Linked DNA regions of Homo sapiens. The protein of the gene in region 2 interacts with the protein of the main gene of each other region in a biochemical or structural test. Each region holds a gene or a part of one and is shown on either strand. Other genes may lie near its edges.

Region 1 (3,959 bases), on a different chromosome or scaffold from region 2:
CCTAGATGTCTAAACGGAGTTGCAGAGAGAAGGCTTTCTCGGTAGACCCTGGAAGGGACTTTTACGGTAGAACTTTCATTTTACAAGCAGGGATAGAGGCCTAGATGGGGACAGAGACGTGTCCAAGGTAAAACAATGGACGGAGGCAGGGCAGGGAGAGGCCAGGTCCTAGACTCGGCCTCAGCACCCCTCCCACACACACATCGACACAGAAGCTGGTCCAGATTTATAATTTAATGGCTGTGCAGATCCCAGTCCCTCATTTCTGTCGCTCACGTGCCCACTGGTCTGGGGTCAGGGTTTTCTGTTCAAAGGCATGGATGTGCGGGAGCTCTTCTGCTAGGCACGCGTTCACCAGCCTGGGGCGAGAGATGGGGTTAGGAAAAGGCCAGCGGTGATCGCACACCCCGAGGCTAGGGTGACCCAAGAGACTGGTGTCCCCAAGGTTGTAGTCCCCAGGCCGTGGGAACACGTACTTGGAGAGAGGGTCTACATCGAAATACTCGAAGCAGGGGTCACGAAGGCGGGATCCTCAAGGTCCCTGAGCCACGCCAGGGGGAGTGCGGGAGTCAGGTTGCAGGGGTAGGGGGAGTGGCTGGGGTTGTGGTACAGGAGCTAGGCAAGGTGCTCCCAGGGCCTTACCTGTGTCTCTGAAGCAGCGGTTTCCCCTCGAACTTGGCCGACACCACCAGGACTCGGAAGCTACAGGAGCAACGGTTGAGGGTCGTGTCCTCCACCTCCTACCGAGCGGAAGAATATGAATGGTGCCGAACCCGCCCCCCGAGCTCTTTTCCCCTTGTCCGGCGGCTCAACTCACCACATGCTCCGCCTCCAGGTCCCGCTGCAGCTTCTCGCGGAGGTATTCGGCGCTGAGTTCCATGGCGGCAGTCCAGCTGGAACGGCAGCCCAGCAGGGACACAACCCCAGCTCGGGCGCCGGCCACGCTACCTTGCTGCCTTACAGGAGCCACTTCCGCTGGAAAACTCACTTCCGCCCTTACTAAGGCGTACGTCAACGCAGTACTTCCGCCCTCAAGCAGCCGGGCTTTCCAGCGGTCCAGGCTTTTCGCGCTTGCCATGTGTCAGCCAATCAGAGCCTGAGGAAGGTGGGACTCGGGCGGAGCCGATGCTGAATGGTACGCGCTCGCCGACTGGACAGCAGTCTGGCTTCCGCGGTCGGACTTCTACACCCGCCTCCAGACAGGAGAGGGGCACGTACCGGCGCTACGGCTTCCTGCAGGCTGCCTCCGGATAGTCCCCGAGAGCTTGTTCCGAAGCAAGCACCCTGCAGCCCTAGCGATCCAGCCCTCCCCTGGACCCTAGGTCACGGCAATCAACCCCCTGCTGTGGTTCCCGAACCCCAAGGCCCGATGGGTCCCGCGGGGGTCGCGGCGAGGCCAGGGCGCTTTTTCGGCGTCTACCTGCTCTACTGCCTGAACCCCCGGTACCGGGGCCGCGTCTACGTGGGGTTCACTGTCAACACTGCTCGTCGGGTCCAGCAGCACAATGGGGGCCGCAAAAAAGGCGGGGCCTGGCGGACCAGCGGGCGAGGGCCCTGGTGAGAGGGGGAGGCCTTCTGTGCCGGGAGGAAGGCGTCCCAGAGGAGGCGGACCCCGCGGGGCACAGGCCTGTTGAGAAGGACCGGCCAGGACTGTGACAGAGGCGGGGCGTCTGTGGTGGGGACGGGGCCTGTCGCAGGGGAGGAGCGTGACGGGGAGGCGGTGCCCGGGGCATCTCCGCGGCGGAACTCAGGGAAGGAGCTAGCTGGGGCGGGGGTGATGATCCAGGCTGGGTTCCAGCATAGGGCTCTTGGTGGGCACGCTGGGGTCGGGTGGAATGCAGGAGAGAGAGGAGGTGGGACAGGTGGGTACCTGGGCTGGAGGCAGGGCCTGAGGTGGGCAGGTGCAGAGGGCTGCACTTCTCGGCTGAAGCCGGGAATGAGGACCCCGCTCTCGGGTGGGATTGGAGGGGACCCGCGGCTGAGGCGCTGGGCTGCGACAGGGACATCACCGTTCTCCTCCTCAGGGAGATGGTGCTCGTCGTGCACGGCTTCCCGTCCTCCGTGGCCGCCCTTCGGGTAAGGAAGGAGACCGGGCAGCGGCGGCCGGGTGAGGGCTTGGGTTCCGCCCCTCGCTCCGAGCCGCCCTGATGCCCCTGTACGCCGCCCGCAGTTTGAGTGGGCTTGGCAGCACCCGCACGCCTCGCGCCGCCTGGCGCACGTGGGGCCTCGCCTGCGAGGAGAGACAGCCTTCGCTTTCCACCTGCGCGTGCTGGCGCACATGCTGCGCGCACCGCCCTGGGCTCGCCTCCCGCTCACGCTGCGCTGGGTGCGCCCAGACCTCCGCCAGGACCTCTGCCTCCCGCCGCCGCCGCACGTGCCTCTGGCCTTCGGGCCTCCACCGCCCCAGGCCCCGGCCCCAAGGCGCCGCGCAGGTCCCTTTGATGACGCGGAGCCTGAGCCAGACCAGGGGGATCCAGGGGCCTGCTGCTCCCTGTGCGCCCAGACCATCCAGGTGAGGTCCCCCCGAGGAATGGATGGCTCTAGAGTCCAGACGACTTCGGATCCAGCTCTTTCTTGAGGGAAACCCACTGACACGCTTTGGCCACCCTATCCCCATCTCTAAGATGCTGATGCTATAGGACTTACGGCCATTCCTGAGCAAAGCAGGCCCTGCTCAGGGCCTTCACCATTTCCCCTTCAAAGAAAAGGTTCTTCCCTAGGCCATCAGTACTCCGCTGCACTCCAGTGTGGTCGACAGAGCATGACCCTCTTTTTTTTTTTTTTTTTTTTGAGATGGAGTCTAGCTCTGTCGCCCAGGCTAGAGTGCAGTGGCGCGATCTCTGCTCACTGCAAGCTCCGCCTCCTGGGTTCACGCCATTCTCCTGCCTCAGCCTCCCGAGTAGCTGGGACTACAGGCGCCCGCCACCACGCCTGGTTAATTTTTTGTATTTTTAGTAGAGACGGGGTTTCACCGTGTTAGCCAGGATGGTCTCGATGTCCTAGCCTCGTGATCCGCCCGCCTCAGCCTCCCAAAGTGCTGGGATTACAGGCATGAGCCACCGCGCCCGGCCCTTTTTTTTTTTTTAGACAGAGTCTTGCTCTGTTGCGGAGGCTGGAGTGCAGTGATCTCAGCTCACTGGAAGCTCCGCCTCCTGGGTTCAAGCGATTCTCCTATCTCAACCTCCCAAGTGTGCCACCACACCTGCCGAATGTTTGTGTTTTTAGTAGGGATGGGGTTCGCCATGTTGGGCAGGCTGGTCTCAAACTCCTGACCTCAAGTGATCTGCCCGCCTCGGCCTCCCAGAGTGCTGGGATTATAGGCGTGAGCCACCATGCCTGGACATGACCCTGTCTCTAAAACAATGTAATGAACTGCAGCTCATTCTTGTGTGCACTTTTCTGCACCCCCTTTCCCTTAACACTTACTATTGTCTGGCATGCTACGTGTTTTCTTGATCTCATTAGCCTCTCCCACCCCAACTGCCACACTGCACTATCAGAGGGCAGCACTTATCACTGCTGTAGAACAAAGTCCTGCACTGAGCCGATGGCCCAGAAATTTTCTTTTTATTTATTTATTTATTTTTTTTTTGAGACAGAGTCTTACTCTGTCGCTCAGGCTGGAGTGTAGTGGCGCGATCTCAGCTCACTGCAACCTCTGCCTCCTGGTTTCAAGCAATTCTCCTTCCTCAGCCTCCAGAGTAGCTGGGATTACACGCGCCTGCCACCGCGCCTGGCTAATTTTTGTATTTTTAGTAGAGATGGGGTTTCAACCATGTTGGCCAGGCTGGTCTCAAACTCCTGACCTCAGGTGATCCTGCCCACCTAAGCCTCCCAAAATGCTGGTATTACAGGCATGAGCCACCGTGCCCGGCCTAAATATTTAATAAAATAATGGACGATGGGTGCCTTCTACTGAGCTCCCGGTAATTGTGAGTGAGTAGAGGACTTGCCCTGGG
Region 2 (2,877 bases):
TCCCCTTACAATTACAGGATAAATATGCTTTTATTTTAAAGGATACTTATCAGGGCCCCAGCAGGAAGACAGATGGCACATTCAACTCAGGGTAATTAAAAGAAGATTGAATAAAGGGACTGTTTGCCAAGGCATGGGCAGGGTATGAGGAAACTACCAGTGACAGCATGGTACCTCACAGTAATAACAGCACAACTTAGGTTTTTCGACCTCAGTATTGTTGACATTTTAGATTGGAGAATTCTTTGTTTTGGGTGCTGTCCTATGATGTGCACAATGTTTAGCAGCATTCCTGGCCACTATCTACTAATGTACCCCTCTCAGTCATGACAATAAAAAATGTCTGCAGACACTGCCAGATGTCATTTGTGGGGAAAAATCACCCCCGGTTGAGAACCATTGGCATAGCTGTTACCATCCCTATGCCTGAAGGGATGAGGGGAAGGAGTGGTTAACAGAATTCAGGAGAGAGAAATGGAGAGAGGACCACCTTGAGCGAAGCTATGAGCTGCCACAGAGGGGGACAGCAAACCCTAGGTGACCCCACTGGGAGGGAGCCAGGGGAAAAATACCCTGACTTCACTTTTCTCCTTCCCACTAGTCCTCTCCTCGGGTCCCTGCTGGTGACACCCAGCTGGGAGCCAGAAGACATGTGGGCCCTGTGTTTTTTGTAGAGATTGCAGAGTGTAGCTTGTATTTTTGGTAGAGACGGGGTTTTGCCATGTTGCCCAGGCTGGTCTTCAACTCCTGAGCTCAAGCAATCCACCTGCCTCAGCCTCTCAAAATGCTGCGATTACAGGTGTGAGGCACCTTGCCTAGCACTAAGATTCTTTTTTATCTCACCAGAAGCATCTTGTATAAAATAAGAAAAAAGATTTTTTTTTCCTCTCTTTGATTTCTTTTTTGGATCTGATAACTTTCTCAGTAACACAGGACAGTTCCCCACACTTTTTACTCTGGGGGTATTAGCAAGCCTTTATATTCATAGAGCAGCTTACCCTCTCAAGGCACTCCCACATTCTCTCTTGTGTTTCCATCAGTCATCCTATGGGGTAGGACTTCTCCCCACATCACAGGTGGGGAAACTGGGGCTCAGAAAAGTTAAAAGCCTTGTTGAGGATCACAACGGGAATGAGAACCCAGAGCTCCCCAAACCTACACTTTGCTGTAATATAGGTCTTGCTTTGCTTATAGGGACCCAATCAGAAAACTTTCTATCAAAGTCCTGTTCCCCAATTACTCCATAATACTGTACTGCTGGAGGATTGTTGGCCTTGAGGCATCCTTGACTTTGATTATGCCCTACCTGTGATAAACAGGAGGTACTCTCATAGACTGAAGTTTCCCTTGTGATTCTTGTCTTTGTCACAAAAAAACCTATCTGTTTGTAAGGACCACTCGGCTCACAGCATCTGCCTTCAAAGCCAGAGTCATTTACTTGTACTAACCTTTGGAAGAGTTTCCCTTCCCTCCATTCCCGTATTCAAAATGGCCCCAGCCCCTTTCAACTTGCTATGTTCCTTTTTTCTCTCTTTTTTTTTTTTTGAGACAGAGTTTCACCCTGCTGCCCAGGCTAGAATGCAATGGCATGGTCTCGGCTCACTGCAGCTTCTGCCTTCTGGGTTCAAGTGATTCTTCTGCCTCAGCCTCCCAAGTAGCTGGGATTACAGGCGTGTACCACCACGCCCAGCTAATATTTTTGTATTTTTAGTAGAGACGGGGTTTCACCATGTTGGCCAGGCTGGTCTCGAACTCCTGACCTCAGGTGATCCGCCCGCCTAGGCCTCCCAAAGTGCTGGGATTGGGATTACAGGTGTGAGCCACCGTGCCTGGCCTGCTATGTTCCTTTTTTTTTTTTTGATGGAGTCTAGCCCCGTTGCCAGGTTGGGGTGCAGTGTTATGATCTCGGCTCACTGCAACCTCCACCTCCCAGTTTCAAGCAATTCTCCTGCCTCAGTCTCCCGAGTAGCTGGGATTACAGGCACGTACCGCCACACCCAGCTAATTTTTGTATTTTTAATAGAGATGGGGTTTTACCGTGTTGGCCAGGATGGGCTTGATCTCCGACCTCGTGATCTGCCCACCTCGGCCTCCCAAAGTGCTGGGATTACAGGCGTGAGTCACCGCGCCCGGCTGCTATGTTCCTTTCTTATTCACTGTCTCTGAGATGCAGGGCACCAAGACTGAATCATTGAGGGCTGGGAGGGACAGCGACACTGTTTCTTGCCACAGTGACTTCATTCCAGAAAGGATAATGCATAAGGGGTGGGAGTTAGTTCATTCACCCAGAAGACCTGGGCCACTCTCACAGGTGCTCAATACCTGCTGACCTCCCTCCCTGTGCTGTGTTCTGGGTACTTTGGCAGGACAGAGAGGACTGGGTGGAGGAGCCAACAGTACTGGTGTTGCTCCGGGCAGAGGCATTTGTGTCCATGATCGACAATGGAAAGCAGGTGGGCAGAGCCAGAGGGTGGGAGGACACGGAACAGAGGGCTGACTCTTACTAGGAAGCAAGTATTAATGCAGTTTCTGCCCCTTCATGCAGGGAAGCCTGGACAGCACTATGAAAGGGAAGGAAACGCTTCAGGGCTTTGTAACTGACATCACAGCAAAGACAGCAGGGAAAGCTCTGTCACTGGTGATTGTGGATCAGGAGAAATGCTTCAGGTTTGGATTTGCCCTGGTGATTTCATGTTAAAAGGGGCAGCTCTTGGGCCAAGGGGGGTGAGTTTAGTTTATTCATTGCAGATGTAGGTCACTCTGCAAGGTAGTCCATCTCTAACAAGTCCAGGGGGATGCTCTGGTCCAGTCTTCTTCTGTATCTTCTGCCTGACTTCAGCCTGGAGCTGCTGTTCTTTGATTTCCTCCCCTGCACCA

What was found. The genes of interacting proteins can lie anywhere in the genome.
Region 1: the proteins of EME1 (region 2) and SLX1A form a complex in vitro, tested with the Homo sapiens proteins (one study listed by BioGRID).

Annotation. Positions count from the first base shown.
Region 1 is NC_000016.10:30,192,716-30,196,674, forward strand, and holds the start of SLX1A (structure-specific endonuclease subunit SLX1), read left to right. Parts: upstream 1-1,159; 5' UTR 1,160-1,369; coding exon 1,370-1,557; intron 1,558-1,717; exon of another isoform or gene 1,718-2,024; coding exon 2,025-2,076; intron 2,077-2,170; coding exon 2,171-2,512; intron 2,513-3,959. Other genes in the region: BOLA2B (bolA-like protein 2), read right to left, coding at 260-359, 643-740, 818-880. UniProt on the Homo sapiens protein: Catalytic subunit of the SLX1-SLX4 structure-specific endonuclease that resolves DNA secondary structures generated during DNA repair and recombination.
Region 2 is NC_000017.11:50,376,229-50,379,105, forward strand, and holds part of EME1 (structure-specific endonuclease subunit EME1), read left to right. Parts: intron 1-2,366; coding exon 2,367-2,453; intron 2,454-2,545; coding exon 2,546-2,667; intron 2,668-2,839; coding exon of another isoform or gene 2,840-2,877. UniProt on the Homo sapiens protein: Non-catalytic subunit of the structure-specific, heterodimeric DNA endonuclease MUS81-EME1 which is involved in the maintenance of genome stability. In the complex, EME1 is required for DNA cleavage, participating in DNA recognition and bending.